Linked DNA regions of Homo sapiens. The protein of the gene in region 1 interacts with the protein of each later gene in a pairwise test. Each region holds a gene or a part of one and is shown on either strand. Other genes may lie near its edges. The genes, in order: TCP11L1, PRXL2B, PLEKHS1 and REL.

Evidence for each region.
Region 2: the proteins of TCP11L1 (region 1) and PRXL2B interact in binary tests that used the Homo sapiens proteins (3 or more experiments, as listed by UniProt).
Region 3: the proteins of TCP11L1 (region 1) and PLEKHS1 interact in binary tests that used the Homo sapiens proteins (3 or more experiments, as listed by UniProt).
Region 4: the proteins of TCP11L1 (region 1) and REL interact in binary tests that used the Homo sapiens proteins (3 or more experiments, as listed by UniProt).

The regions. Positions count from the first base shown.
Region 1 is NC_000011.10:33,034,935-33,043,005, forward strand, and holds the start of TCP11L1 (T-complex protein 11-like protein 1), read left to right. Parts: upstream 1-4,637; 5' UTR 4,638-4,858; exon of another isoform or gene 4,859-5,453; intron 5,454-8,071.
Region 2 is NC_000001.11:2,582,098-2,589,776, reverse strand, and holds the start of PRXL2B (prostamide/prostaglandin F synthase), read right to left. Parts: upstream 3,001-7,679; 5' UTR 2,982-3,000; coding exon of another isoform or gene 2,892-2,981; coding exon 2,829-2,891; intron 2,687-2,828; coding exon 2,482-2,686; intron 2,037-2,481; coding exon 1,985-2,036; intron 1,442-1,984; coding exon of another isoform or gene 1,388-1,441; coding exon 1,324-1,387; intron 1,248-1,323; coding exon of another isoform or gene 1,228-1,247; coding exon 1,152-1,227; intron 856-1,151; coding exon 737-855; intron 368-736; coding exon 350-367; coding exon of another isoform or gene 298-349; 3' UTR 1-297. UniProt on the Homo sapiens protein: Catalyzes the reduction of prostaglandin-ethanolamide H(2) (prostamide H(2)) to prostamide F(2alpha) with NADPH as proton donor. Also able to reduce prostaglandin H(2) to prostaglandin F(2alpha).
Region 3 is NC_000010.11:113,768,216-113,775,780, forward strand, and holds part of PLEKHS1 (pleckstrin homology domain-containing family S member 1), read left to right. Parts: intron 1-599; coding exon 600-675; intron 676-1,568; coding exon 1,569-1,685; intron 1,686-3,754; coding exon 3,755-3,874; intron 3,875-6,011; coding exon 6,012-6,118; intron 6,119-6,610; coding exon 6,611-6,820; intron 6,821-7,358; coding exon of another isoform or gene 7,359-7,404; exon of another isoform or gene 7,405-7,549; coding exon 7,550-7,565.
Region 4 is NC_000002.12:60,884,486-60,892,050, forward strand, and holds part of REL (proto-oncogene c-Rel), read left to right. Parts: intron 1-7,197; coding exon 7,198-7,340; intron 7,341-7,565. UniProt on the Homo sapiens protein: Proto-oncogene that may play a role in differentiation and lymphopoiesis.

The DNA.
Region 1 (8,071 bases):
CTTCCACCTTTCCCCTCTCTGTCTTTTTGTCTGTGTGTATGTCTCTATTGTTAAATAAACTTGGTCAGTTGTTCTTGAGTTTTCCTCAGTCTGAATTTTTCTGATGACAAGTCTGGGCTGTCCTTTATCATGTTCCTTTGTATCCTATAGTTCTTGTAAATTGGGCATTAGAGCTAAAGTTTTTAATACCTTTTTAACCAAGTTAATCATTATTTGGAATGAGTGCACTGTGAAGATACACAGGTGACCTTTAAACACCACAAGTTTGAACTGCGCAGGTCCACTTGGATTTTTAAAAACAGAAGTTATACAAAGTGTGCTTGCCTCTCCTGCCTCTCCTTCCTCTCCTTCCACCTCCTCCACCTCTGTGACCCCTGAGACAGCAAGACCAGCCTTCCTCCTCCTCTACCTATTCAATGTGAAGATGACAAGGATGAAGACCTTTAGGATGATCCACTTTCACTTTGAATAGTATATATTCTCTTCCTTGTGACTTTCTTAATAACATTTTCTTTTCTCTAGCTTACTTTAAGGTAGGAATACAGTATTTAGAGCAGACACGGTGGCTCATAACGGTAATCCCAGTACTTTGGGAAGCCGAGATGATTGCTTGAGACCAGCCTGGGCAATGTAGAGAGACCCTGTCTCTAACACCCCACCCCAAAAAAAGAAATTAGCTAGGCATGGTAGCATGCACCTGTGGTACAGCTCCTTGGGAGGTTGAGGTGGGAGGATCCATTTGAGCCTGGGAAGTTGAAACAGCATTGAACCATGATTATGCCACTGCACTTCAGCCTGGGTGAAAGAGCGAGATCATGTCTCAAACAAAAAACAAAAAACAAAAAACACTCTATATATAATGTAACATACGAAATGTGTGTTAATTGACTGTTATTGGTAAGACTTCTGGCCAACAGTAGTCTAATAAGTTTTAGAGGAGTCAAAACTTATATGTAGAATTTTGATTGTGCAGGGGGATTGATGCCCATAACCCCCACATTGTTCAAGGGTCAACTGTATTTGATAAATAGACAAGCAATATAATACAGTTTGAAGTTGTTCATCCTAATAGTAATAGAGCCAAAAGATTAAATACTGAATTTTGTCTTTTAACTGACTTTAATGAGAGGTAGGGAAAACTGAAATGATGCACCAATATGTTAGTATGTCAGTAATGTTTTTTTTTCCCCCTTAGGTATAACTGATAGTGCCTAGTCTAAGTAGATAAAGGTTGAGGACTAATATCTATAAAATACCTATGATACCAGTTCTAATAACTCAGGGAATAACTCCGTTTTTTTGGATAGGTAAGAATGGAAGGGCTGGGCGTGGTGGCTCACGCCTGTAATCCCAGCACTTTCAGAGGCCGAGGCAGGTGGATCATCTGAGGTCAGGAATTTGAGACCAGCCTGACCAACATGGTGAAAACCCGTCTCTGCCAAAAATACAAAAATTAGCTGGGCGTGGTAGCGGGTGCCTGTAATCCCAGCTACTCGGGAGGCTGAGGCAGGAGAATCTCTTGAACCTAGGAGGCGGAGGTTGCAGTGAGCCGAGATCGTGCCATTGCACTCCAGCCTGGGCGACAAAACAAGACTCCCTCTTAAAAAAAAAAAAAAAAAAAAAAAAAAAAAAAAAAAAAAAAGGGGAAGGCAGCTCTCTTTACAGTGAGGGGAAAAAGAAGATAAGTTTATGATTTAAATGTGAGAGGAAGTTTTCAGAAACAAGCTACTGGAACTGTGGTGAGATCAGCACGGTGGGCAGAGCAACCGTGTGCTATCTGATTTGTAACCTTTATTTTGCACATAATTGAATAGCATATTTATTTGACAACCTTCAGGGGAAGGCAGAACTGCTTAGTTACATTCATGCTTCTAGGAGAAGCAACATTCTAATAGAATGATAATTTCAGGGAAAATATACTAGTAAAATCAATTTACCTTAGGCCTTATAAGGAGGATAAAAAGAAAAATCGATCATGTTTACTGCAACCATTGTCAAGGTTTTAAACTACAGGTCCAGTGCTACCTTGAAAGCCTTGGGCAACCCTCCTCAGTCACTAGAACTGTTGATTATCTTTTGCTGTGTGCTCTCATTCATTCACCCATGACGCCTTCTTGGGGACCCATTCCCACATAGACACCTAATGCCTAGTTGACCGTAAGTCTTGCCATCATCCTAGCAGAGTAGACCAAGGTTGAGCACCTGATCCAAGGGCAGCTTCCCTGGAGGCTAATGAGACTAACTTTGTTCAAAAATCAGTTTGGCCAATCAAATTCTATATAGGTAAATTTAAATTATGAGGCGCGTCAATTAAGAAAGTACAGAAACCAGCCTGTAGCATAAAGAGTGGAATGGACTACAGCAAGCAGAGATGTGACAAGAGGGATCCTGTGTGTACAGGAGCAGTAGCCGACCTCTAGAGTGGCTGCCACCTTTCTCCCTCCAAGTCCTATGTCCTTGCAGTGAACTCCCTTTACCTTAACGTAATTTGAATTTCCAGTCCTTGCAGCCAAAGATCAAAATGGAATGTGTCTATATGTATTTTTTGAATATTGAAACAGTACAAAACATTAAAAGATTACAAGTGAAATATCCCAAATTAAATCAGTGATTTTGGTATTGTTGCAGTATCCTCTCCAGGTGGAACTTGAGTATATTCATTCACTTGCTCCTAACCAAGTGAAAATTGGTTATATTAACCTTTTTTTTTTTTTTTGAGATGTAGTCTCGCTGTCTCCCAGGCTGGAGTGCAGGGGTGCGATCTCCGCTCACTGCCACCTCTGCCTCCTGGGTTCAAGGGATTCTCCTGCCTCAGCCTCTCCAGTAGCTGGGATTACAAGCGCCTGCCACCATGCCCAGCTAATTTTTGTATTTTTAGTAGAGACGGGGTTTTGCCATGTTGGCCAGGCTGGTCTTGAACCCCTGACCTCAGGTGATCCGCCCGCCTCGACCTCCCAAAGAGCTAGGATTACAGGCGTGAGCCATTGCACCCAGCCATATTAATCTTTTAAGGAAGGTTCTAGCCTGCTTCCCCAGGGAGCTTTTAAAACTTGTCTGGCATCACCCTCCCCGGAGTTTTGGATGATACTTTTCCAACCCCTGCCCCTGAGATTCCAAGTTGTATTTGTAGTCAGGGCTGAAAAACACTAGAGACTTAATGGTACGAGTTTAGACTCAGAAGAACTGCATGTTTTCTTTGCAGATCTTTTTTTTTTTTTTCAGACGGAATCTCACTCTGTCACCCAGGCTGCAGTGCAGTGGTGCGATCCCGGCTCACTGCAACCTCTGCTTCCCGGATTCAAGCAATTCTCCTGCCTCAGCCTCCCAAGTAGCTGGGATTACAGGCATATGCCACCATGCCCGGCTAATTTTTTTGTATTTTTAGTAGAAACGAGGTTTCACCATATTGGCCAGGCTGGTCTCGAACTCCTGACCTTGTGATCCACCCACCTCCGACCTCCCAAAGAGCTAGGATTACAGGTGTGAGCCACCGCGCCCAGCCATTCTTTGTAGATCTTAACAGTTCCATTTAGTTGAGTATCTTAAGGGTTTTTGGTGTTTTTTCCTCCAAAAAGTGAATCTTCACCAGAGAACTTCTGTTTTTGTCTTTTTTTTTTTTTTTTTAAAGCAAAGACTTTAATGTGCAAGTTAGTAAATGGTTTGAGGGTCTGGTATTGCACTCGGCCTTCAATACGTTAGCAATAACTACCCACATGTGATCTATTTAGAAGCAGTGTTTGAAAGCACCAATGTCACCCCATCTGCTTTTTTGTAGTTTTTTTTTGTTTGTTTGTTTTTGAGACAGAGTCTCGGTCTGTCTCCAGGCCGCAGTGCAGTGGCGCGATCTCGCCTCACTGCAACCTCCGCCTCCCAGATTCAAGCGATTCTCCTGCCTCAGCCTCCCGAGTAGCTGGGACTACAGGCGCGCGCCACCACACCCAGCTAATTTTCGTATTTTTAGTAAAGACGAGGTTTCACCATGTTGGCCAGGATGGTCTCGATCTCTTGACCTCGTGATCCGCCCGCCTCGGCCTCTCAAAGTGCTGGGATTACAGGCGTGAGCTGCTGCGCCCGGACTAACTTTTTTTTAAAGCTGAGGAAATGAGAGAAGGGGAATAAACTTTGTGTAGCTACAAACAGGATGGCAAAATTAAATTTCAAAGAACGGGCGGGGAAGGTTTCAGATGCAATGGCTTCTTATTCCTTCTTTTGACTGACCCGCGCCTTCTCCGCCTCCCTTTCTCCTCGCGTCACCCGCACCAGCGGCTGGGATGCGGCGCGCGTTCCGTCTTTCCGTATGGAAACATGGCGCCTAGGGGCGGGCCATCCCCAGCTTCGAGCCACCGCCAGCTGAGACTCATCGGCGGGCACTCGGCCATGCCTCTCGCGTTTCCGTACGAAAACATGGCGCCTCACTGCGTGCGGCGGGCGACTCTTGGCTGGGAGCCACTGGCCACGGAGCCCCCTGAGCGGTCATCGGCCATGTTTTCCACCTCTCCCTGAGGAAACACGGCGCCGCCCAGCTGCGAGTCACCGCTTACTGAACCCCTTCGGCAAGCAGGGGAAAGACCCTCCCGCCTTTCCGTACGAAGACATGGCGCTGCCCTATATTGGGCTGGCGCCTCCCGGCCAAGAGCAGTCTCCTCCTTCCTGATGCTGAGAAGCGGCCGCTCTGACCGCTGCCCACCCGAGTCGGGCTGGGAGGACCGCCCGCCGCGTGGCGAGGGATGCGGCCTCGGAGGGGCAGAGGCTGAACCGCCCCTGCCTGCCGCGCATCCCTCCGGCTTCCGCCGCGGCGCCAGCCCGCGCCTGATTCGCGGCGGGAGCGGCAGGAGGGAGAACGCCGACTCCGTGGCAGGTGAGAGCGGGAGCTGGGGCGGAGGCTGGCGGGGCCCGTCCGGGAGGCGCGCGGTCCAAGTCGCAGGCATCTCTTCGCCTCTTCCCGTCGGATCCCATCCCGGGATGTCGGGGGCAGGCGAGGAAGAGGCGGGGTCCGCGGGCGGGTGGAGCTCACCCCTCGAGGCTGTCCTCTCGGCGCGCCCGCGTCCTCCCCTACTCCCGGCCCTGCCACTCCCTCGCTGGCCTGAACAGCTGTTTACAACGGAATCCGGACGCCGGGCGCGAGTGGAGCTCAGTGCCAGAGGAGGGGATTCCCGGCGCCGGGGGACAGAGCCCCTTTTTTCTTTTGCCGAAAGACCCTTTCTGCTGGGGAGCCTCTTGTGTCCAGCCTAGGCCCGCGTGCAGCGCCGACGGATGACCGTCTTCTTGGCAAGTGCGAGGATCCTCCTCCCCTCGGCTCTCTTTTTAGACACAGTGGGGGTTGAATGGATGCGCGCGATATAAGCAAATTAAATGGTTCGTGGCCGCATCCTAGAGCCCTTTAATTAGAGTTACCATTTGTAGAAGGCCTGCCGTGCACAATCCCTCGTTTCATCTCCCCCCAAACCGAGCAGGTAGGTAGCTGTGTTTTACAGAGGAGGACACTGAAGTTACACAGCTAGTAAAGAGCCAGAATTGGGGCCCAGGTATGTCTGAAACCAACGCCCAGCCTCCCAGATACAGTGACATCACAGAGATGACGTAGGGATTCATCTCTATCAACAGATACTTGTGGGTGTCTATTTGGGGGATATACAGATGGAGCATAAGTGGGGAATATGACTGGTCCTGGCTCTTAAGAAGTTCGAAATCTAGGTGGGGAATTTTAAAATAAAAACTAGCACTTTTACCATCTGGCCCCAACGCATCTTTCCATCATCTCTAGCCACTTCCTTTTCTCATTTTCTTGTGCCTTGGCTTCTGCCCTCTGAGTGAAATGCCCTCCTTTTCACCTCCTCTCCCCCTCCTCTCCCCCTCCAGACATGTTTTAACTAGGTGAAATCCTACTCCTTTTAAAGATCAGTTCAAATGTCATCTTTTCTGGGAAGGTTTTCTCAATCTCCTCCCAGGCAGAGTTAGTTTCTTCCTCTGCTATATTCCCTGGGCAATTTCATAATGCCACTTAAGTTTCATTATGGCTCCTTGTAAGCCTGTCTGCCTCCCCCTCTAGACTATGTATTTGCATCTTTCTATTTAAATAAGCACGCTTTGAATTGAATTTAAGGCAGTGACAAATGCCAAATGTCAACTAGCCAGCCCTGCAGGAGTTGAGAAAGGTGCAATCACTGGTGAGGTCCGGGAAGTGTCCTGGGAAGAGACAGGACTTGAACTCAATCTTAAGGATGGGGTTAGTTTACTAAGCTGAGCATTAGAGACCTAGAAATCCTCCCTTTCCTCCTCACTGCACAGAATGAATTACTTCATCCCTCCTGGGCTCCTTCTCAGCATGTGAAGATAATAAAATTAGCAGCGTTTTGTTTGTCGTTTCTCACAGAATATGCTGGTAATGTTATCCTTTGGATCTTGGAGCATTTCCTGACCCTAATAGGATTTAGGACACAGAGGAGATGGGTGTCTCCAGTGGGGTGTTGGAAGCTAAGATGGGTCTCGAAAGGGAAAATACATGAAAACAACTTTCATATTAATACAGGCCTGGGCCAGGTGCAGTGGCTCACGCCTATAATCCCAGCACTTTGGGAGGCTGAGGCGGGCGGATCACTAGAGGTCAGGAGTTCGAGACAAGCCTGGCCAACATAGTGAAACCCCATCTCTACTAAAAATACGAAAATTAGCGAGGCGTGGTGGTGGGCGCCTATAATCCCAGCTACTGGGGAGGCTGAGGCAGAAGAATCCCTTGAACCTGGGAGGCAGAGGTTGCAGTGAGCTGAGCCGAGATGGTGCCACTGCACTTCAATCTGGGGAACAGTGCAAGAGTCTGTCCCCAAAAAAAAAACAAAAAAACAGGCCTGAATATTTCAATCCCAGTAACTTCATTCTATTTAATGGAGTTCTCTGAAATTTCACATAATTCTATCAGGTGATTCTTCACCTCTCTCTAATATGCAGAACACAGTCTGCCAAACTCCCTAAATCAGTTGACATTTCTTTTGATCACCTGATTACCTTCCATGTGTGTAAGAAAGTCTAATTAGTGTTTATGAAAATGTTTTGTGATCTTCAAGTGCTGATGTTACAAATGTTAATTATTTTCAGCAAATGCAGAAACATTGTGTCTTCTCTCCCAGAAACACCCTAGGAAAAGGGAGAGTGGAGGAATTGACTAAAACTTTTACTGTAATTAAAACAGGGTTTTTTTGTTTGTTTGTTTGTTTGTTTAGACAGAGTCTCAGTCTGTTGCCCAGGCTGGAGTGCAGTGGTGCGATCTCGGCTCACTGCAAGCTCTGCCTCCCGGGTTCATGCCATTCTCCTGCTTCAGCCTCCTGAGTATTTGGGACTACAGGCACCGCCACCATGCCAGGCCAATTTTTTAATATTTTTAGTGGAGACGGGGTTTCAGCGTGTTAGCCAGGATGGTCTCGATCTCTTGACCTCATGATCCGCCTGTTTTAGGCCTGTTTTAGGCTGGGCACGGTGGCTCATGCCTGTAATCCCAGCACTTTGGGAGGCCCAGGCAGACCTTTTATTAACTGCTCCAAAGCACAGTGTCAAGTGTTATTGCTATTCTGATCAGCAACTAATAAAAAGCCCACCCAACTGCATACATTATGGTTGTTTGCAGCTTCTTACTCACAATCTTTTTCCTAATTACTGGCAAGAAGGTAATAAAAATATTTGCCCCACACATTCCTCTTAAACATTTCATAAGATTCTGTTTTCTGTAGGGCGCAGTGGCTCATGGCTGTAATCCCAGTACTTTGGGAGACCGAGGCAGGTGGATCACCTGAGGTCAGGAGTTCGAGACCAGCCTGACCAACATGGTGAAACCCCGTCTCTACTAAAAATACAAAATTAGGCCAGGCGCAGTGGCTCACGCCTGTAATCCCAGCACTTTGGGAGGCCAGGGCAGGTGGATCATGAGGTCAGGAGTTCGAAACCAGCCTGGCCAACATGGTGAAGCCCCATCTCTCCTAAAAATACAAAAATCAGCCAGGCATGGTGGTGGGCGCCTATAATCCCAGCTACTCAGAAGGCTGAGGCAGGAGAATCACTTGAAACCGGAAGGTGGAAGTTG
Region 2 (7,679 bases), on another chromosome or scaffold:
TGACGGGGCAGTGAGGTTACCATCCCCAGTGCCCCACAGGCCAAAGGCCCAAGGTCTCCAGAGAAAGTCGCAGAGCAGGAAGATGACACCTGGGACTCACAGCCACCCTGCCCGCCCTGAGGGCCCAACAGTGAGCAAGGCGGGGGCTGTGGAGGATGCAGGGCTCGGAGCCTGCGAAGCAGTGCGTGGTCAGGAACTGCAGTTTTAATGGCTCGTTGCTGCCGGCGGATCAGGAGAGGTTCGGCATCCCGACCCAGCGCCTCCGGAACAGTTCTTCCAAGTGGACTTCCAGCACACCTAGGGCAGCAGACGCCACCCAGATCCTCGGAGGCCAGGGCCTTCGCCTCCCTCACACCTCTCTGTCACACTGTGGGGACAGCAGGGTCCCATGGGGCCGCTGGACACTGGATCAGACAAATGCCTGGAGGGCCCCCTTGGACAATCCCCAGCCCTCCCAAGGCTGAGAGGACACGCCTCTCTGCCCGCCACCCCATGTGTCGCCCCCACCTCTGAGGACAGTCCCAAGGTGCCTGTCCATCCAGCCATGCTGCCCTTCGGCCCCTCTCAGCCTGCCCCACTCTGCAAGTGGGGTCACAGTGGCATCCATATCCCAGGGCACAATTGGCATGATGCCCACAGCGCTGTGGCTCAGCTCCCAGCCAAGCCGAGTGCTCCTCCCAGGGGACCTAGGGGCAGGGCGTGGGCTGGCAGGCAGCGCCCCCAAGGCCCAGCTCACCTGAGGCGGGTCGCTGGCACAGACCTCCGCAGAGATGCCCAGGACCTGCAGGATGTGCTCCTTGGGGACGTAGTCGCCTGGGGACTTCTGGACGAAATGCAGGAGCACTTTATCACCACCTGTAGCAGCGGGCAGGCAGTCACGGCACCCCGGAGGCCGCCTGCACCTCACAGCCACATACCAGGAGGAGGGAGGGTAGGGCAGCCCTGGCCAGCCATATCCCCCACCCGGCTACCCAGATGAGTGAGCTGTTCTGCCACAGCCCCACTCAGCCCAGCAGACACGCAGAACCAGGCCACATTGCGGCGGAGGGGCTGTGATGAGACTGACAAGCCAGAGAGAGGGCCTGGGCTGGGCCACCAAGTTCAGCAAGGCCCTCCTTGAGGCAGTGGCCGAGGCCCCTCCCTCGACCCACCTTTGCTGACCACCAGCAGCCCTCCGCTCTGCAGCAGGTCCCCAGACAAGTTCCCCTGGATGCCAACAGCCTTGGCCTGTCAGGAGTGGGTACAGCCTGAGTCAATCCTAGAAGAAAGGCTCCTGGGAGCTCCCACCACCCCCCGGCCTGTACACCCTTGACCCGCACACACCTTGGCAGCCACATCACGCACGGGCTTCCCCAGAGCTGCTGGGAGGATGCTCAGGCTGTTGTACCTGCGAAGACACCAGGTCGCTTGGCCAAACTCCGGAGAAGCCTGGGTCCAGAGCCTGCTCCAGTGTCCATGAGACCAGTTCCTAGGTCAGGCCCCACCCCACCCACCCGCCTCACCAGGGCTCAGAGATGGCACAGGCGACCAGATCAGTAGCCAGCCCAGCCCACCGGCAGGTTGGACACCGAGCCCAGTGGCTGCTAGCCGAGGGTCCACAGAGGGTGCAGGGAGCATGGATGGGGCCCCAGGCTGGGTGTGCCCAGGGATCTGGCTCAGCTGGCAACTGCCAAGCAAAGGAAGCAGCCTGTGGCACAGACACCAGAAAGCTAGGATGGCCCCTGATGGGCCACGAGGCTCCACCCCACGAGGTGGTCTGGACACCGAGAGTAAGCCCCGGACGAGGTGGCTCATTACAGTCACCCAGCACCCAAGAGAAGGCCTGGCAGAAGGGCTGGTCAACAGTGCCACCAGAGCCGCCTTGCCCAGGAAGGCCCGAGTGGACAGCACCACAGAGGGCAGCAGGGAGAGGAGGTGGCAGGGAGCGGTGGGAACCCCTGGGCCCCCCACCCCACGCTACCCAAGGGTTCCCGCCCCCACTCACCGCTTGAAGCCTAGCTCCTTGTAAAGCTGCTTGCTCTCATCCAGGTAGAGCTCTGGAAAGCGGAAGCCACATGTGTGTGCCCCAGGCGCAGAACCAGCCCCCAACCCACTCACCACAAAGAATCGCCCTCCTCCTTCCGACCCTCTGTTCCTCTGCCCACCCTCCGTGCTCAGCCCACCCCCGCAGGGCAGGGAGGGGTAAAACGGGGCTGAGTGTCCCCCCTCCCCTCAGAAGAGGGGCTGAGTCCCAGAGGCAACAGGTGGAGCCGGCGGGGCAGAGCTCGTCCAGACTCTGCTGCTGGGCCCAGGTCTGTGCAGGGCACCACCCAGCCACCAGCTGCGGGGCGGGGAGGCAGGGAGAGATGAGGGACGCTGACCCGTGGGCATATCAAGGCCGCTCCAGCAGACAGAAGGGCCGGGGTTGGGCAGGAAAGGGCCCCGAACGCCCTGAGCTTAGGGAAGGGTATGTGCGCCGCCGCGGCGGGGAACAGGACGCACCTCCCGCGAAGTAGTCGCCGTCCAGGAACTCCTGCAGACCCAGGGCCTCGGGCCCTACGCCCACCAGGCGCACGCCGTGTTGGTCCAGGAGCCCAGCAAGGCTGCTGAGGTCCTGGGCGATCCAGCGGCACACCACGCACCCGAAGCGCCGCAGCCCGGCCACCACGCACGCGTGCTCCCGCCACAGGCTCCGCAGCTCCACGGCCTGCCGGGCGGCTGGGTCATGGGCGCGCCCCGTTGCCCCCAGCCCCGCCCAGGCCCCGCGGCCCCCACCACCCCATCGCTGCCAGGACGCCCGGGCAAGGAGCCAGGGACGCGCCCACCGCCCTGCGTCCACCCGGCCTCACCTCCCCGGTCACCGCATGCTTCAGGATGCACGCGCCCACGCGAGCAAGGTCCACCGTGCTCATGGCGGCCGCTGCCAGCCCTGGTTCCCGGCTCCCCGACTCCCTGTTCCCCGCTCCCGGCTCCTCGCTCCTGGATCCCCGCTCCCGGCTCATAGATCCAGCCCCAAGCCCCGCCCCGAGATGCCCCGGTCCCGCCTTTCTTGCTGCCGCCGAGGCCCCGCCCCTTCGGGCTCGTCTCCGCCCCGGGCCCGCCCCCAAGATGGCCGCAGCGCGCCCCGGCCACGCCCCCGACCGCACCCCGAGCCCTGCTCCGCCCCCTCGGATTCGCCCCTAGTCCCGCCTTGTTTCCCCTCCTACTCCAGGCCAAGCCTCGAGATCGCGGCGCCAAATCCTGGGTCCGCCTGCTTCGGTCCCTCCCGCCTCCTCAATCCGGGCCTTGCGGGACAGTTGCTGTCCCGCGTCCTGGTCCCGCCCCTAGCCCCGCCTCTCCGTTGGGCCGCCGACTTGGACCCCGTCGGCCATTGGCGCAGCAGGCGGAGCTGGGCGGTGCGGCCCTCGGTGCGCGGTGCGCCTGTGCGGAATGCGGCGGGAGGCGGGCAGCCGGCTCGGGGTCGTCCCGGGGGGCGCCGGGGAGCGGCTGGGTACGGTGGGCCCAGGGGTGGTCCAGGGAGCGGCGGGGGTCTCCCTGCGGCCTCGCGCGAGACTGGGCTGGACTCAGGGTTGAGGGGAGAGGGTGAGCGCAGGGGTCGCGGGCATAGGGGACCGCGGGCCGGGGTCTCCCGCGGGGCGGGGGTCCCAGCAGTGGGGGGCGGGGGGGTGCGAGGGCTTAGCCTTTCCACGTGGCCTGGTTTTCGCTTGAAAATCCCCGCAAATGCGGCAGCATCTCAATTATACATGGACGCGATGTCTTTAATCATGAAATACTGTTCATGTCGTGCCGGTTGCATATCAGCTTTTAACCCGCCAAACCTTGGGGCGAAATAGACCCCGGGGAGATAAGCACAGCTCCCAGAAGTGCACTGCGGGTCAGGTGCCTGGCAGATGCGTCCTGTTCCTCCCCCACTGCAGCCCTGTGATAGCTTTTGTCACCGAGTTGGGGTGAGGGCCGGGTCACAGCTTCACCCGGCCTGGGCTCCCACCTGAGCGGGCCCGGCCTGGCAGAGTCTGTGCTGCTGGCACGGGTCCTCACTCCCCAGGCCCCAGGACAGCTCCAGGGGCCTGGGCGGGCTGGAGAAGGAAGGGGGAGCCCCCACACTGTATTCCAAATAAAGAGAGGCCCCGGGGGGGTGCTGCTGCTTCGCCTGTGCCCTCGCCCTGGGGTGGTGAAGGTCCAGACTGCGAAACGGAAGTCGTCACTATGTCAGAAAGGGCAAAAAGCAAAACAAGGAAGGGGAAGCACTAGGAGGGAGGAGCTGTGGCAGCTCCAGAGCCCAGGAGTGCAGCCCCCAGAGACCAGGGCTACCCCTCTACCGTCTCGGGCTGTGCAGGAGGGGCCCTCTACCCTCTGGAGTTGTGCAGGAGGGGGCCCCTCTACCATCTGGGGCTGGGCAGGAAGGGCCCCCCCCCACCGTCTCAGGCTGTGCAGGAGGGGGCCCCTCTACTGTCTCGGGCTGTGCAGGAGGGGGCCCCTCTATCTTCTGGGGCTGTGCAGGAGGGGGCCCCTCCACTGTCTCAGGCTGTGCAGGAGAGGGCCCCTCTGCCGTCTGGGGCTGTGCAAGCAGTGAGCAAGCTGCCGCCTCCTTGGGAGCTGGGATCCCAGACGGGATTCAGCCATTTTCAGAGACGTTCCCAGAAACGAGAATGCGAGATCAATTCCTCGCCTGGCATCTCCCACCAACGCCATCGCTGCAGGAGCCTCACTGGAAGCCAACGGGCAGAGGAGAGTGGGAAAGGAGCTTGCAGCCTCCCAGCTCCAGTGATGCAGAGCAGAAGGTGGCTGGGAGGCTGAGAAGCCATAAGAAAATAGCAGGGCCAGCCCATGTGGCCGCTCAGATACATGCTATGTGTGTGTTTGCATATGTAGGGGCTGAAAAACTCCACCTCCATCCTTTTGAGGTCCTGGCTGGGCCCAAGAGTTAAATCAAGATAAGACAGATCATCATGCCAGTGTATTTGATTAAAGTTGGATGTGGCTCAGGAGCCCTCCTAAGGAAGTGAAGACCCAGTGAAGCAGACTCAGTCGTGTGCTGAGTTGGACAGAGAACAGTGAGGTTTGAGGAAGCAGCTAGATGATGTGGGGGGCTGAAAAGGTGAGAGGCATTTTATCAGGGACTGTACAGCATTTGCTGGGTCTCAGCTTCTCATCCTTGAGGATCAGAGCTTTCTAGTGTAGGGAGAGCATCTTTCACCTGGGAATTTCATCTTCTGCTTTTAAGAAACACAAGAGAGATCAGAATGATCTTTTTGCACCTGTTATTGTTTTAACTGCCTTTAATTCCTAATAGTGACTATGCCAGAGCAGCCTATTTTGGGGTGGCACCTTCTTAACTCTGCATACTGTACATATCTGGCACACATCATTTAAAGTAAATAGACAGGCTTGCTTACTTTTTACTCAAGTGCAACATAATTCAGAAAAGTGCAGACATGCTCAGTAGACAGCTCCTTCTACACGCCTGTTGACTTTCTTTCATCAATGACATATTGGTCGGCTCTTGCTAGGCTGTGTTGCCAAAACAACTCGCAAGCCTGGGTCGATCACAGCAACCAAGTTTCCCCTCCCACTCAGGTTTCTTGTCGGCCACGGGTGGCTCAGCTTCTGATGCCTCCTTCGTTCTGGGGTCCAGGCTGAGCAAGCTGTGGCTCTCTGGAACATGCCGTTCTCCTGACAAGGGAGGACATGGAGGAGAGATGGAGAAACCATGCCACACTCTCCCAGCGGCCATGCACAGCTGGGATGTGTCGCTTGCACTCCCATGTCACTGGCCAGAGCAAGTCACATGGCCAAGGAGGGGCAGGGAAGAGCACTTCCTCCTCCAGGTGGTGCCAGCTCTGGGACTGGGTTTTAGCTTTCCTTACAAAGGAAGAGCTGGCCCGTTACCGCAGCAGGGATGCTGACAGAAGACGTGAAACTCCGGGGTCAGAGACAAAGGACTTTTTCATTCATGGCGTGGCAGGCAGGTGCTCACCTGTGTGTTTGGTCTTATCCCCTTGCCCCCAAATTCCACGGGTGCCATGTGGGTAGGCCTGGGTGGGCACTGCACAGTCAGTAGGTTTGCGTGGCCACTGAGGAGCCCTGCACTGGGGGAGTCAGCTGTTTCTGCAGCAAGCAGTGAGCAAGCTGCTCTTTGTCCCTAGAGGACTCTCAGGGCAAACCACCCTGAGAAATGGGGGAGGGTACTCAGGGCCTGCATTCCTGGCACACCCTGTGAGAGGTGGGGGGCACGAGACACTCGTGGAGGACTGCCCTCTTAACAGGAGAAGCTGCCAGTACCAGAGGCCAAAGAGACTTACCCAGAGATTTCACCGGCATCCCTGGGCTGCCTGGTGCCACATATGTGAAAACAGTCATTTCATGTAAGCTTGTCCACTCAGTAGCATGAAGGTGGGAGGGTGTCTTAGTCATAGATGGGGTGGCTTCTAAAGAACAGAAATTGATTTCTCACATTTCTGGAGGCTGGAGGTCCAAGATCAAAGCGCCGGCATATTCAAGGTCTGGCGAGGACCCCTTCCTGGTTCCTAGATCACTTCTTCATGCTGTGTCCTCACAGGGTGGAAGGCATGAGGGGGCTCTGGGGGGCCTCCTTTTTAAAGGCACTAACTTTGGCCGGGTGTTTTGGCTCACGTCTGTAATCCCAGCACTTTGGGAGGCCGAGGTGGGCGGATCACCTGTAGTCAGGAGTTCGAGACCAGCCTGGCTAACATGGTGAAACCTTATCTCTACTAAAGATACAAAAATTAGCTGGACGTGGTGGAGCATGCCTGTAATCCCAGCTACCCGGGAGGCTGAGGCAGGAGAATCACTTGAACTTGGGAGGCAGAGGTTGCAATGAGCCAAGATCATGCCACTGCCTCCCAGCCTAGGCGACAGAGTGAGACTTCGTCTCAAAATAAAATAAAATACATAAATAAAAGCACTAACCCATTCCCGAGGGCTCCACCCTCACTACCCACCTAAGCACATGCCGAAGCCCCACCTCATAATGTCATCACATTAGGGATTCGGTTTCAGCATATGAACTGGGGGAGGGGGCACAAATGGGGGAAACTGGCTCCACTGTGTGAAAATTGTCAATACTAAGGCAGAGTCACTTATGTCAGGACCCAAGCAAAACGGAGCTGGGAGGCCTCAACGGAAGGTCCCTCATGCTCGGGTGCCTATGATGAGAACTGTTACAGGGACTCCGACAGCACACAACATTCCAGATCAGCTGCTCCTATGAAGACATCTCCCCCGCAACAATCATGTTACCCATGAGTAATCACCAACCCTGCAATAAGCTCCTGTACCCAGGGAGGTTTATTCCAAAACAATCTGTGTAGACTTCCTCTTCCCACCCCTAAAAGAAAGATACACCTACGGTCCCCCTCAGCATGCATATCCCAGATTGCAATCCCCTGCCATCCCCCAGTAAACTTTATTTGGGAGAGCCAGTCTCTCTGTTGTTTATTTTACATTGACAAGTTGCAGCATCGTGGCCAGCAGCAGAAGTCCTACTAGGCTTCTTGAGTCTGTGGGTTGGTATCTTTAATCAGTTTGGGAATTCTTTTATTTTATTTGTTTGTTTGTTTGTTTTGAGATGCAGTTTTGCTCTTGTTGCCCAGGCTGGAGTGCAACGGCTCGATCTCAGCTCGCTGCAACCTCTGCCTCTTGGGTTCAAGCGATTCTCCTGCCTCAGCCTCTGGAGTAGC
Region 3 (7,565 bases), on another chromosome or scaffold:
GGCTTCTGGTCCTAGCAAAGGTGCCTAGTGGACTCTTCATGGATGATTATCTGCTTGAGGGAGAGGCAAAGCGGGTGTGGGAGAGACTGTGCAGAGGAGGCGGACAATGCCAAAGCCAACATATGAAAAACCCTGATCTGTTTCAGATTGACCAAAGCTTCCTTTTAAGTTGTCCTGTGAGTCCATAGAAAAGATGTGATTATACAAATTCACTCAAGCACATTCTTCATCAACACATGCACTCCCTAAGGGAAGGCCCACCTGCATAGTTACACAAAAATGACACTGACAGGTTAGGGGGCTTGCTTGAGAACACAAAGGAAATCAATGTCAAAGCCGAAAGCCCCAAACCCTGTGATTACTACTATTATTTTCTACTTTTCTTCCCTTTCTCTGAGCTTTCCTTGCAGAGGTGGCTGAGCATTAATTCTAGTGTGCAAATGTGGAGGTGGCGAGGCCATTTAAGCTACTTAGGAAAAATTCTTATTTCGCTGGTACCTGCTCTCACCACCATTCTAACATTCATAAAAGAATCCTTCTCTGGTTCAAAAGGCACTATTGTTGCCACATGCCAACTGAAAGTTTATTCCTGTCAACAGGGAGAAGATTAAAGACTGGGTCTCCTTCATGTCATCATTTCGCCAGGATATAAAAGCAACACAGCAGAACACAGAGGTGACTCCATATCACTAATAAAATAACAGGGCACCTGAACACAACCCTCTTTCAATAGAAAACAATGGTAGCTTTCCTTTGCCTCCTTAGTAACTGGCTTTAATACAAGGAATAAATAAATGAGAAAATGTACATCCTTATTACTTTTTATGATTAACAGAAAAAAATTCTTTTGTGTTTTGTGAGAGAGCTAAAGTACAGACACTTCAGATTTTTATTATTGTGTTAGAGGGAAGAAAAGTTAACTGTGACATTTTTAAGTAGTAGCTAGAATATAGTATTTTCCATCATTGTTATTCAAGGTGCATGACAAGCTCCCTTTTGAATGACTAAGTCTAGGGCAGTTTCTATAAAAATGTTTTACATGTATCTTGCATTTTTAATATAATGTATCTTTCATGTACATGCTTAGCAGTTTTAAGTTTTAAACTTATTTCAAAAGGGCCTCTGCTAATGTTCCTTTCTCAGGGCAGACCTTTATAGATGGAACTTTGGTCCCTAGGTATCTTTTTTTGACATGTTTTCTAGGTTGTTCCATGCTTACAGCAAAAGCCAAAGAGAAGGAGAAATCAAGGCATGTCTTCAAGTAGACTGAAGTGATTAGAGCAAAGGGAACTGGGGTGGAGGGTGTCAGAAAGAGACACAGTTGAGGAGACAAGTTGAGGGAAACGCTGGTCATCTCTGAGGGTCAGGCTAAATGTCCTCAAGGGTTTGGAAACAGGAGAGAGACAAGTTCGGCTCTTGTCTTGGTGAAATAATGCTGGCAGGCCAGCGGCATGAATGTTAGATTGCTATGGGAAAAGACAGGAGGCAAGGAGCCCGGTAGAGAGGCTGCCGTTTCATTCCAGACAGAGATCAACTGTGCCCTGACTGATTCCTTTTTTTGTGAGCAGGAGGAACTCTCATTGGGTAATAAAAGAACCCTCTTCTACTCCAGCCCTCTCCTTGGCCCTTCCAGCACATCAGAGGCTGTTGGCTCCAGCTCACCAAGAAATGGTCTCCAAGACAAGGTAATGGGGCTCACTTCTTTCTCAGGACACCACACCTGGGAGGCAGCTAATGCCTAAAAATCTTACCAATTAGCAATTGAATTTAACCATGCCCACCTTCCTCAAAGCCCGATGCACTATAAGAAAGATTCTTAGCCCTGATGTTTATCCCATACCACAGATGAGCCTCACTGAGGGCTTGCCCTGAATACCTCTCAGTGTATTCATTCATTTTAGATGCTCTTGATATGCTTTGGGTATGCTAGGGTAAGACCCCTTTGCTAAACCAAAACCTAGCTGGCAACTTGCTTCCTTTCTTTCACACAGAGGGCACAGATCCCTCTGCCAAAAGATTTCCCAGACACTACCTGATTTCTGCCCATTCTGTCTGTACTCCTCAGGCAAAGGCTGAGTTTCTTGTTAATCTCTTCCCTTTACCCTGATCAATCTCGCTTCTCATTCATTATAGCTGTCTATCACTTCTTCCTCATTTCTAATGAAATCCATTTGAAGACATAAAATATAATGTACCTGCCTCTTGAAAGCGACTTGTAATTGGACCTTCAGCTTTCTTGGATTTGCAATGTTCCCAACTTGGGATATTAGTCATAAACATGCTGAGTGGTTTTGTTCTCTGGCACGGATACTATTTTGTCTCTTAGAGACTTATCCATTGACTTTACCCTGTCCATGTATACCAAGCACATCTAATGAGTCCTAGTCCCTTGTTTTATCTAGTTGGTAGCTCTCCAACTATTTTGAAAGCTTTTTGTAGCATATCAAATTCACCATGCCAAACACCTCACCTCAGTTCTTCATTTAGCGAGTAGAAACGGTGGTATGCAGCAGTTAGGAAGCTTCACCCTTGTCTGTAAGTGCCTCTTGCTTTTCACTCATGATATCTCCCTCCCCCTAGAGATAACATTATTGGTCACTTTGCCTTTTCACACTATAGATCCAGTGATTTTTAAACCAGCTCGAGTTAACAGTACTGTTTGCCTTGCTGGGTGGTGTTGTTGTTGGTTAAATTAAGTGGGCTGCCTTTACCCCCAACTCAGCATGATCCGGCTCCATGAGCTTGGAACTTAAAACATGGACAGAACTTAAACACACCTGTATTTTAAAACTTGACTTTTTTTCTAGAGAACATTCAGGGTCTTTTCCAAACCCCCTGCTCTGAGGCATTGTTCTTGGAATTTTTCTGCCATGCAAAGAAGCTACTTTAGTAGAATATTCTGTATCTATGGGGAAGGGGAGGCAATAGTGGTTGAATCTAGATCACCTGGAAACCCATAATTCATACTATCATATGATCAACACAACCAAATTCCATTGCTGTGGAAACAATAGAAGTGTGTGAACAGAACACAAAAGAAAAATATGGAGCAGGAACAGGAAAGGTGCAACGCCTTGATTCTGGGTTAATTACATTCTTAGATGGCACTGGATGATTACAGGAAAAAGATGAGGGTAGCAACTCCAGAGCTTAGTGACTTAGAATGCTACCCACAGGGCTGGTCATGGTGGCTCATGCTTGTAATCTCAGCACTTTGGGAGGCTGAGGCGGGTGGATCACGAGGTCAGGAGTTTGAGACCAGCCTGGCCAATATGGTGAAACCCCATCTCTACTAAAAAATATACAAAAATTAGCTATGCATGGTGATGCGCGCCTGTATTCCCAGCTACTCAGGAGGCTGAGGCAGGAGAATCACTTGAACCCAGGAGGTGGAGGTTGCTGTGAGCCGAGATCGCGCCACTGCACTCCAGCCTGGGGGACAGAGTGAGACTCTGTCTCAAAAAAAAAAAAAAAAAAAAAGAATACCACCCACAGGAGAAAACCACTTGTTCTGAGTGACTGTTCCAAACGGTAGAGAAAAAAAGCCTGAGTGATGTGCTTATATGTTTTCATCCTCAGTGGTGACCCAGACTCAAGAGGCAAGTTCAAGTTGTGTGAGCTTCTGGATGTAATCTTGGAAGACCCTCTGGTCTTTTTTAACCCAACTAATTTATTACGGCTTTTCTAGAATGCATGTGATTTAATTCTATCTCTTGCAAAGAAAAAGCAAAGCATTTTTATCTCTTTTCTTCAGCATTTAATGGAACAAAGTTCTCCAGGATTTAGGCAAACTCACCTACAAGATTTATCAGAAGCCACTCAAGATGTGAAGGAAGAGAATCATTATCTTACTCCTCGAAGTGTTCTTTTAGAGGTAACCCCTTCTTGTCCATTCATCATTTGTTTCTTTAACAAATATTTACTGAAACCCTGCCATGCACTTTTCGTGCAATATTAGGCTATGGTCAGTGGGAACACAGAAGTAAATCAAATACAGATGACGTGCTCATGGTGCTGACACTTGACTAGGAGACAGCTGTAATACAAGACAGAGGGTTCTATGCTGAAGAGAGATGCTTATAAAATACCAGGGGTGCATGAGCTATGGGAGGAGGAGATGACTTTCAAACAAAAGATCAGGAAGATTTCAGGGACGAGATGACATTAGGCCATACATGATGAGTAAAATTTGGATGTGGGGGATTGCCTTGAGGAGTCTTTCTGCATTCTTAGCAGAAAGAATAATATGAGCCAAGGTCCTTGGGTGATCAGTTGTGTGCTGTGTATCGATCAGTCTATTGATCAGTAGGAAGCCCTTACTGAATGCCTTCTGAGCACTAGTCACTGTACTGTACTGGGCATGGTGGCTAAAGTAATGAGCCTGACATCACCCTGCTGTCAGAGTGCATAGTCTTGTCAGTTACCACAGGATAACGCTGCACAAAAGACGTGGTCCGTGTGCTCTGGAAGCAATAGAAAAAGAACAGATTTTCTCTATCAGAGTCAAGGAAGGCTTCTGGGATGAAGTGCCATTTGATACATGTATGGGGAATAGTTCAGTGAGGCTGCAACCTAGAGTGCGTGAAAGGCATAGTGGGAGATAAACAGAAGAAAAGGGCCAGCCCATGATGGGTCTTGAATGCCAAGTTGACTTCATTCTGTAGACAGCATAGGGGAAGCGATGGCTTCTGAGTTGGGAAATCTCAAAACCTGAATTATCCTCCATTAGTATTAACTGAGCAGCTATATCTGCCATGGACTATAGAGAGAAGAGAATGGAAGTGAGAGATAGGAAGACAGAATGGAGGGTGGGAATGCTGCGTCATTTCCCAAACTGGGGGTTTTCCGTAAGATGGTGACGTATGTTTATATAAAAGAAACATTCTGGGGTCAAATAAGTTCCGGAAACACCCAGTTAAAATAAGTTAAACAAGCTTCTTAGCAGAATTCTCAGAGCATTTAGTATGCAGTGGTGCATTGTAAATAGTCAAGTCAGATACAACACATGGCATTTCCCAAGCTCCTTTGAGCACAGAGTTCTTCTTTCACCAAAATATTTTCATATTTCTGTTTCCTGGGATGCAGTCTTTTATGATAGTTCAGCCAACCAATCAGATGTGTACTGAGCATCAGTTATAGGCCTGGCCTTTGCTAGGTACTTTATGATAAGTAAAGTCTAGTAAAGCAGACAAAACAGCTAAAAAGACCAAAGATAAATAAATAAATAAATAAGTAAAAAAACTATGCAATGGAAATTGAGAGAAAGGAGAGCTCTGCCGTAGCTGAGGTGATCAGAGTGGGCTGTGGGACTTCAGCCAGGCCTGAACATGATTTCAGTAGGCCGAAAGGAAAGATGGCACTCGAGGTGAAGAAGAGAGCACGAACATGGCGATGGAACAGCACCATTTGCAGGGGGCCAATGGGAAGACTGGCTTGACTGGAAGGAAGGTTTCCATCATGGGTTAACGGTGAACTTAGGTAGGCCTTAGGGTTTTTGAGCAATCATTGCCACAAGTGACTCTCTTTGTTCTAAGGGGGCTATGGAGAGCTTCCTAAGGGCAGTATTTTTCTAGAACATTGCAATGTCCCTGAAGCCACTTGGGCTGCCTGTGAGCATAGTAACCTGAGACCAGCTTCACATTGTGTCAGAGTCTTTGTCCCAGCCAAGTGCCATGATTCTATAGTAGAACTGATTGGGGAAATGCTTTCATGTCATTAAGTGCCGAATGGTGAAACAGAAAGATAAACAGCAATTTAGCTCAATAGAAATAACACTTGTATCCGGAGCATGAGGGATCCAGGAGAAGAAAATTGACTTTGAGTCCTCCAGAAGCTTTGCTGGTTCAGTCTCGCGGAGGTAAGGTTGGTTGATATTTCTCAAATGAGAACCACGTTCATCCACTGGAAACTGTACCTCTATGTCAGAGCCCAGAGCTGTTAATACTAGAAATAAGAAGGTACCTGACTTATCGGTAAACTGGGATTCTTACATCTATTCCTTTTATCTGCAGTTGGATAATATCATTGCTTCCAGTGATTCTGGTGAATCCATTGAAACTGATGGTCCAGACCAGGTCTCTGGAAGAATTGAGTGTCATTATGAGCCAATGGAATCCTAGTAAGTCAAAATGCCGTTTCAAAATTTGATGTTTGCTCATCTGCTGTTAAGGAACAATGATTGTCAGTTCATTTCAATAGTTGATAAACTGATGCCAAACATTACCAGAGACCAGTTTCCACATATTATTCAGTCGTCTCAACACACAAAAAATGAGGGAGTCATGTCTCTTCCCACAGAAAACCACCGATGACATCCTCAGGACCTTTTCCGTCTCCTGAGGAAGTTATCTTCTACTTTGCATTTATGTCTCTCACACTCTCACTTCTGTCCTCCAAACACTGTAAAGGGTAATTTTGATTCCATATCTATTTTTAGAAGGAAAGTTTGTTGAATTTGATGCTAGCTGTGGCTGTGATTCTGATAGTTGGACATACGTCAAGACCTTGCTAGTCTTCACATGGCTGTTAGCTACTTAAATCTGACACACACAGGGGAACACTGTAAAAACACATGCTAAAATAGGGCTTGTTTTAACTTCTTATGCTCTAGTTTTTTCAAAGAGACATCCCATGAGTCTGTGGATAGCAGCAAAGAGGAACCCCAGACCCTTCCAGAGACCCAGGATGGGGACCTCCACCTGCAAGAACAAGGCTCAGGAATTGATTGGTGTCTTTCCCCTGCCGATGTGGAAGCACAGACCACAAATGACCAAAAGGGGTCGGCCTCACTAACTGTTGTGCAATTGTCTATATTAATCAAGTAAAGCTCTAATTTCTAAAACTTGATGGGCCCTAAGAGCAAGGCAGCCTCCCTCCCACTTTTTTTTTTAACTTAGAATTTAAATTTTAAAGCTGTTCCTAAAAATCTCCAAGTCAGCCAAAAACTTGACCATCTTCTCCCTGTCATTGATGTTGTGGCCAAGGAGAGGGGATGATAGATCTCAAGTAAAGCAGTTCCTGGGGCGGGGGGTGGCATTTTCAGCTATTTTTAAAAATTCCCCCTTGGCTACTCTTTCAGGTCCCAGGACTTGGGATCCACACCAATCTGAGTAGCATGTCACTCAGTTTTCCCATGAGTGTAATTATGGACATGCAAGTTGCATGAGACTTAGTTATAGACCAGGAGGGGGTTATTTAGGCTTTAAGTGATACCAAGAGCATTTGGTACGATTGATGTAATTTTAACTCTTTTCCATGCCTTCTTCTATGGAATCATTTCCAGCAGAGAAATATGCAGACTGGCCTGATGTGGACAGTTACATAACCAATTTAGTCCATTTTTCCCTCTGTTCCCATAGCCTACCATCCGCTACCACATCCCAAGAGGATTTTTCAGTAACTTAAATTTATATTATTCTCCAAATGTTTTGAACAACCTTTACCTGGACAATGTCATCTCAGAAATAGAGGCCAAAAGTCTACTCAGAAAGTACAGTTGAGAGCCAAGGTCAGTTGCCTGATGTGACTTTTACAAATGTCTTGTTCATAGTAATATCCCCGATGAA
Region 4 (7,565 bases), on another chromosome or scaffold:
AATAATAGATATAGTGAAGAAAAATGTTCCCAAACCCATCTAAGGTATGCATAGTAGGCAGTTGTTGCTTTTGTATATTTATTCTATTTAATATAAGTAAAATTAGATATTTTATGTCTGAATTTAAACCTTCTCATTGTTCCAGTAAAAAGAGCAAAATGTCTTTGTGTGGCATATAGCTCTGTTAACTAATAATTAGTGCTGTCTTTGGTAAAATGTTTTAAAATTTAGATAATTTATTTTTCTTCACATTTTTCTTAGTATGGTTCTTCTGTGTCACACAATAGGAAGGAAGTACAGAAATGAATTGTTTTTGTAAACCTCACTTCTTACCAACTATTTGTAGTGTGAATTTCAAGAGAATTGTTGTTTTTCTCGATTAAAGGGGAGAAATGGAAGTAAGTGTGAGGCAACTTAATCTTTAATAACAGAGCTGGAAGTTAGGAATGGATAGCTACAGTAAATGACTTCTTTTTTTAAGTAAAATGCCACACATGAGCATGAATGTTTCAGAAATGCAACACATGAAAAAATAGAAATAACAATGGAGTTAAATAATTAAGGTGACGTATGATAGGCACAGATAAAGGGAATGAGTTAATGTAATGACTAGGGAGGAGCCAGACAATGAATCATAATTAGGAACATCTAGGTTATGCATAGTATCTTTCTCAAATACAATTTAAGGGACTCAGAATTTCATTTTGTTCCAACTTTCTCTCATATGGGTTCTCTGAAAATGATTTTGTTTGTAGGCACATGACCCAAATATTGCATGGGATAAAATTGTTTTTCTGAAATTCATATTTATCTGGGCCTCCTCTGTTTTTATTTTTAAAACAGAGGTGATTTGGTCTTGCCATTTGTTTTTAACTTTAATACCTGTATAATCTAGGACAGCTTTTAAAATTTATTTATTTTACCCTGGCACGTGCAAGAGTTTTTTCAAGACTTACCTTTTTTCCCCCTTGGTAACAGAATCCCTATTGCCAGAATCTTTTACAGTTTTTACCTTGTAGTGCATAAATCAGTTGAATACTCATCTGAAAATTTCCTTTCTTTGATTCTTAAGGCCCAGTTGAAAGTCAGCCTGATGTATTGGAGTAATAAAGTCAGCCTGATATATTGGCATAGCCTTTGGCTGATGAGAGACCTAGTTTGAGGAAAAAAATAATAGATCTTATTTTCTTTTTCTCCAAATTGAGTAGAGGTGATATTTGGAAAAATATATATTGTTAGCTCCATTGGCTCCTTTAGGTCTCAGGCAAAGTCTGTCACCGAGGACCTTTATGAGAGACATGCAGTCTAGTCAGCTATTCTCAACTGTGGTGTTGACACACTGGTGTGACAATCATTTGTGTGATGTGTTGCAAGAGTTAAAATATTTGTGTTGTAAATTATTTACTTTTTAAATAAATGAAAGCATTTGAAGGTTATCTCTATATTGTCATTTTTTCTTGCTTGCATTTGAATAAGGTTCTTTTTTAAGTGGGAGATAAACACAAGTTCAAGTTACAAGTAGCCAGAATTGCTTTGCCTAATTTACTCACGTCCCAGTCCATATTTGTACCTGAATTTTTAGATTACTTCTCTCAATATGTGCATTGTTGCTTCCACTTCATGTTTTAAGACAATTATTCTTAATCAGGAGTGTGTTAGAATTTCTTGGAAGGCTTTTTCAGCAACGTGTATCTGGGCTTTAAAAACTATGAAGATTTCTTTATCTTCTAAACATCTCAAGTGGGGTAAGGACATGTATGTTTTGAAAAAACTACCTAGGTGATTCTGATGTACATCCCCAGTATGAACTCTGTTCTAGGGATTTCTTTGGATCTAAATACTCATTTGGCTATACCAGGATGCATTATCTTCTTAAATTAAGTTGCATTTATTTTAGATTGCAGATTATGTGCTGTATCAGTTATTACCTCCAGTTGCTTTTATGCTTGTTTTTTAAATTTGGCACTGCCATATTAGCATACCATTCATAATTCATTTTTATTATAACTTCATATAATTTTCAACTTTAGTTTTATCATGTGTAAGATGGGATAATAATTTCTATTATTTTTCAAATGGAGATTAAAGTTAAGAGGATCAAATGAGAAATGTATATAAAGGGGTCTTAAAATAATGTTATAATTACAATAATTAGCTTTTTTTTCTGTATACTTGATGCTGGTTGCTAATTCTAGCAATAAAGTGTTTGTTAATAATGTGTCTATTTCCGATAATTTATGATCCATTTAAACATTTCAATGTAATTTTTTTATTTTAAAAGCTCATGCTTTATTAGATAGGCACTATGTTTTAAAATAGCACTCTTTCTTGCCTAAGCGCAAATAAAAACATAGATATATCTTACAAACATTTTGGCTGTATTTTAGAAGTTATTCTGATGTATATTAGCCTTTTAAAATACTATTCAGAATATAGGGGTCAGTCCCAGCTTTGCATAGTGTTGCTTAAAGAAAAATACAGTAATCAATTTGTTTAGAGTCAATTTTGGAGACGTTTTGGTGCTTTTCAAAACTGTGGCGATTTGAGGTTATCTTAGTTAAGAGTACTTATTTTCCCTACAATTTCCTGATTTATGTTTTACCCTCTTGCACTCCATAGATGACTACATTTCAACACATTTTATATTCAGGAAGAATGGCATTGTGCAAAGCACAGTACTGAGGAAGGAGATAACTGGTGCATTGTACTGATGCATTATATAAATGATTTATAGCTGGGAAGTTTTTTAAAAATCATAAACACAGATAAATCAAAATAGGAATGAGTATGAGGAAATACTGAGGTGTAGCAATCCTGGTACCTATAAAGCACTATTTTTTTTTCCTTAGTAGTGGAATCTAATTAAAAAATCTGACTAATCACTTATATGATTATTTAACGTTTGAATAACTTGTATAAACAAAAGACCTTAAGATTTTTTAGTCATTCATTCAATAGATGTTTAATGAATATCTCTGTACAAGGCACTGATGAGTTAAACACAATTTCTGCCTTCAAGTAGCTTGAAGAAATAAAACAAGTAGCTTTATCTCAAGAAGAAATAAGACGGTAAGTTTTCCCTAAATTACAGTTATTTGGAATAATTGCTATACACAGAATACTATGGTAGTTTAAAGGAGGGGAGATTATTTCCAGCTGGGGGAATGTAGAGTATTACAGTATACTGTGTTACTTGGTTGTAATACTCTACATTCCCCCAGCTTGTTAATTTTTACCAATTAAGAGCTTCTGCAGTAGGAAAAATAAATTCCAAGGACTTTAAATACTCAATATTATATGATAACTGATATTTATGTAATTTTTACTATTTAAAAATATTTAATCTTTTCAACAACTACTTTTCTGTTCTTTTTGTAAACAATCTAAAGAAGTGTCATGTAACCAATGAAGTTTTGGGTTTTTTTGTTGTTGTTTTTGTGTTTTGTTTGTTTTTTTTTTTGAGACGGAGTCTCACTCTGTCACCCAGGCTAGAGTGCAGTGGTACAATCTTGGCTCACTGCAGCCTCCACCTCCTGGGTTCAAGCAATTCTCTTGCCTCAGTCTCCCAAGTAGCTGGGATTACAGGTGCCTGCCACCACATCCCGCTAATTTTTTGTATTTTTAGTAGAGATGGGGTTTCACCATGTTTTCCAGGCTGGTCTGGAACTCCTGACCTCAAGTGATCCACCCACTTTGGCCTCCCAAAGTGCTGGGATTACAGGTATGAGCCACCATGCCCAGCCTCAGTGAAATATTTGAATGCTCACTATGAACCTAGCAGTTTTATTCACACTCTCTCTTCCCAAAGTTAAACACTTATCATTAACGATGTCATTTTATATCAGTTTCCCACCAAGACACCTTTAAATAAGTAGTGGGCAGGGATTTATTTGGCCTTTACTTCAGCCACATAAATTATTTAAAATGTGACTTAAAAAGTAATGTTGATTTTAACAGTTTTTAAGAGGAAAATATACTTTCTTAAATACTCCTACAAGGATATATAAGGGTATGAAATATTTGAAATTGCAATGTGAATTTGAAATCTTTAAAATATGCAAGGATAAAATCGTGAAATACTCATCTGCATATCTTATGTTTTTGAGTAAAACTGAAATAAGGATTATGAACTTGTTTAGGTTAAAGTCAGTTTTCTCTGGCTCTTCATCTTCTGAATAAACAAATAGGTAGTAGATTCAAACACAGGGAGTTTACACCATACAGAATAAAATTGAAAGTTACAGTAATACTTTATTCAGTAACCCAAAGTAGAAGCCATGGAATCATCAATGATTCTTTAATTTCTGAGCTATCAGTGATTCTTTAATTTCTCTTAACCCTACTGTTCAGGCACCAGGTGCTGTCAATTTTATCTTTTAAATAATCCTTCATTCATCTTATCACTGCCATATATCAGAGATACCCTCATCATTGCCCACATTATTATAGTGGTCTCTAAACTGATGACATTGCTTTCTTTTTTCTATCTGTTCACTGTGACTAAAACTTTTACTCTAAAATGCAAATCTGATCATGTGATTTGCCTGCATCAAAATATTCATTGATTTCATCACACATAAAATGAAATCCACATTGCCAAGTGTGCTCTGACTTTTAGTTCTCTTTTTAAGAGAGAAAGTGTGTTCCATTTACATTGGTGATTCTTAAATAAACCCTCCTCTGTGGACACACTGTTCCCTTTTCCCTAGAATACCTACCTTTTTCCTCTTCATTTCCTCCGCTCTTTTGCTTCATTAACCGCTCTTTTTCCACTGACACAGTTGGGCATTCCTGACTCTTTCGCTCTTATTTCCGCAGAATTTTGTTAGTGCTTTCCTTCCTTCTGTAGTCTAATAATATATGTTGTTTGCCTTGCTCTTCTATAAGGTCCTTTAGAGTGACAGTTGGGATACCACCATAGTATCACTAAATCATTGTTTTCAAGAAAGCATCTGAAATAATAGACACCATTTTTTTTTATTTTTTATTTTTTTACACTTTAAGTTTTAGGGTACATGTACACATCGTGCGGCTTTGTTACATATGTATACATGTGCCATGTTGGTGTGCTGCACCCATTAACTTGTCATTTAACATTAGGTATATCTCCTAATGCTTTCCCTCCCCCCTTCCCCCACCCCACAACAGGCCCTGGTGTGTGATGTTCCCCTTCCTGTGTCCATGTGTTCTCATTGATCAATTCCCACCCATGAGTGAGAACATGCGGTGTTTGGTTTTTTTGTCCTCACGATAGTTTCCAGCTTCATCTATGTCCCTACAAAGGACATGAGCTTATCCTTTTTTATGGCTGCATAGTATTCCATGGTGTATATGTGCCACATTTTCTTAATCCAGTCTATCATTGTTGGACATTTGGGTTGGTTCCAAGTCTTTGCTATTGTGAAGAGTGCCGCAATAAACATACTTGTGCATGTGTCTTTATAGCAGCATGATTTATAATCTTTTGGGTATATACCCAGTAATGGGATGGCTGGGTAAAATGGTATTTCTAGTTCTAGATCCCTGAGGAATCGCCACACTGACTTCCACAATGGTTGAACTAGCTTACAGTCCCACCAACTGTGTAAAAGTGTTCCTATTTCTTCACATCCTCTCCAGCACCTGTTGTTTCCTGACTTTTTAATGATCGCCATTCTAACTGGTGTAAGATGGTATCTCATTGTGGTTTTGATTTGCATTTCTCTGATGGCCAGTGATGATGAGCATTTTTTCACGTAGACAACATTTATTGAATGTGTATGTATATATGACACTTCGTAAGAATTTAGCACATATAATCTGTCATCTTCACAACAACCCAATGAGGTAGGTGCTATTATGATTATTCCTATTTTACAGAGGAGGAAACTAAGAGATTTTTAATTTTAATCACATTTCCTTGGTCTTACTGTTAAGAAGTAGCTGGGGTAGGATTCTAAAGGCCTCTTCTCCATACTGTTCTGATAAGGCCCACTGTGTTACCATTTCTCAGGATTGCTTGCGTTCTAACAGGATAAGCCTTAGTCAGCACTAAAGTGATTAAGGGACACATTATTATTATTTTTTAATGGAAAACATCTTCACACCCCTATTAACTCCCCTACTTGCAAGTACAGTTGAGTGTCTATTTACCTTTTCCCCCACAATTTGGATAATAAAAGTAAAGTTGCATACATTTTAAATAGCTTTATTGACATATAATTTATGTACAACAAACTGTACTTTTAAAGTATGCAATTTGACAAGTTTTGACATATGTATACAACCCTGGAATCATCATCACAAGATAATGTCCCCCCTGCCTTTCCTATCCACCATATATCCCTGTTCTTAGGCAACCAGTGATCTGCTATCGTTCATTGTATATTACTTTACATATCCTAGGGTTTCATATAAATGGAATCATACAGTATGTGCTCTTCTGGTCTAACTTCTTTCACTCAGCATAATCATTTTGAGAGTCGTCCATGTTATTATATGTAGCAGCAGTTCATTCTGCAGATGCATATTTTGAATTTTAGTTATTATAGAAAGTGAATACTTTTTTTTCTCTATTATGTCTTTAGAAAAGGTTTGCATGGGACTGATTGCACATTCTTTGAGCCTAAAGTCCCTCCTGGGGCTTGTTTTGATATACTGTGTGTAAGTCCTTTAATATTTGAATGGAGATATAAAAAACTTACATATGCTTCTGCAAGGATTTAAATGCATTTTCATTTTCAGTGAATGGTCTTTTCATTCAGTATTATGAATATGATGTAAAATCAAGCAGTTAAATATATTTAACTCACTTTAGGAGTGTGATATTTTACTTCTGAATACTGCCTTCTTTACCCTTCTTGGGGAATCTTGGGGGAAACCCTTCTGCTAGGTCTCACGTGGGAGGCAGATATCTCTGAAGTGGTTATCTCAGAACTTCATATTGACGTTAGCTATAGATATTAAGCTATAAAGTGCTAACCAGTCAATATGGTTTGAATGACTTGTTTTGACACTACATAGGGACTCAATTTGAATGGGAAAAAAAGGTGCCTCTCCCAGCCAATCTCCAAGATAACATTTCGGTCTTGTTATTTAATGTTAGGAGGAAAAAAATCTTTGTTTTAGTCTGCTGTTATAAAAAAAACAGAATGTTAAAATCCATTATTAATTGCTATATTAATCTCACTGACCTCCTCCTTTTTAAAAACTTTTCAGGTGCGTATAACCCGTATATAGAGATAATTGAACAACCCAGGCAGAGGGGAATGCGTTTTAGATACAAATGTGAAGGGCGATCAGCAGGCAGCATTCCAGGGGAGCACAGCACAGACAACAACCGAACATACCCTTCTATCCAGGTAATAGACCCTTCTTCTGTGTCTATCTCACTATTAGTTGCTTCATATACTAGCTATAGCAATTATTTTAAAGGGCCAGTTTCTTCACAGTCATCTCCACAGGTTTATCTTTTTCTTTTTTCCTTTTTTTTTTTAAACGGATCTGTCAAAAAGACATCTATTAGATAGATGTCTAAGGACATTTCTTAAATATAAAATGGAGTCTTCCCCACTGCAGATAGTTCT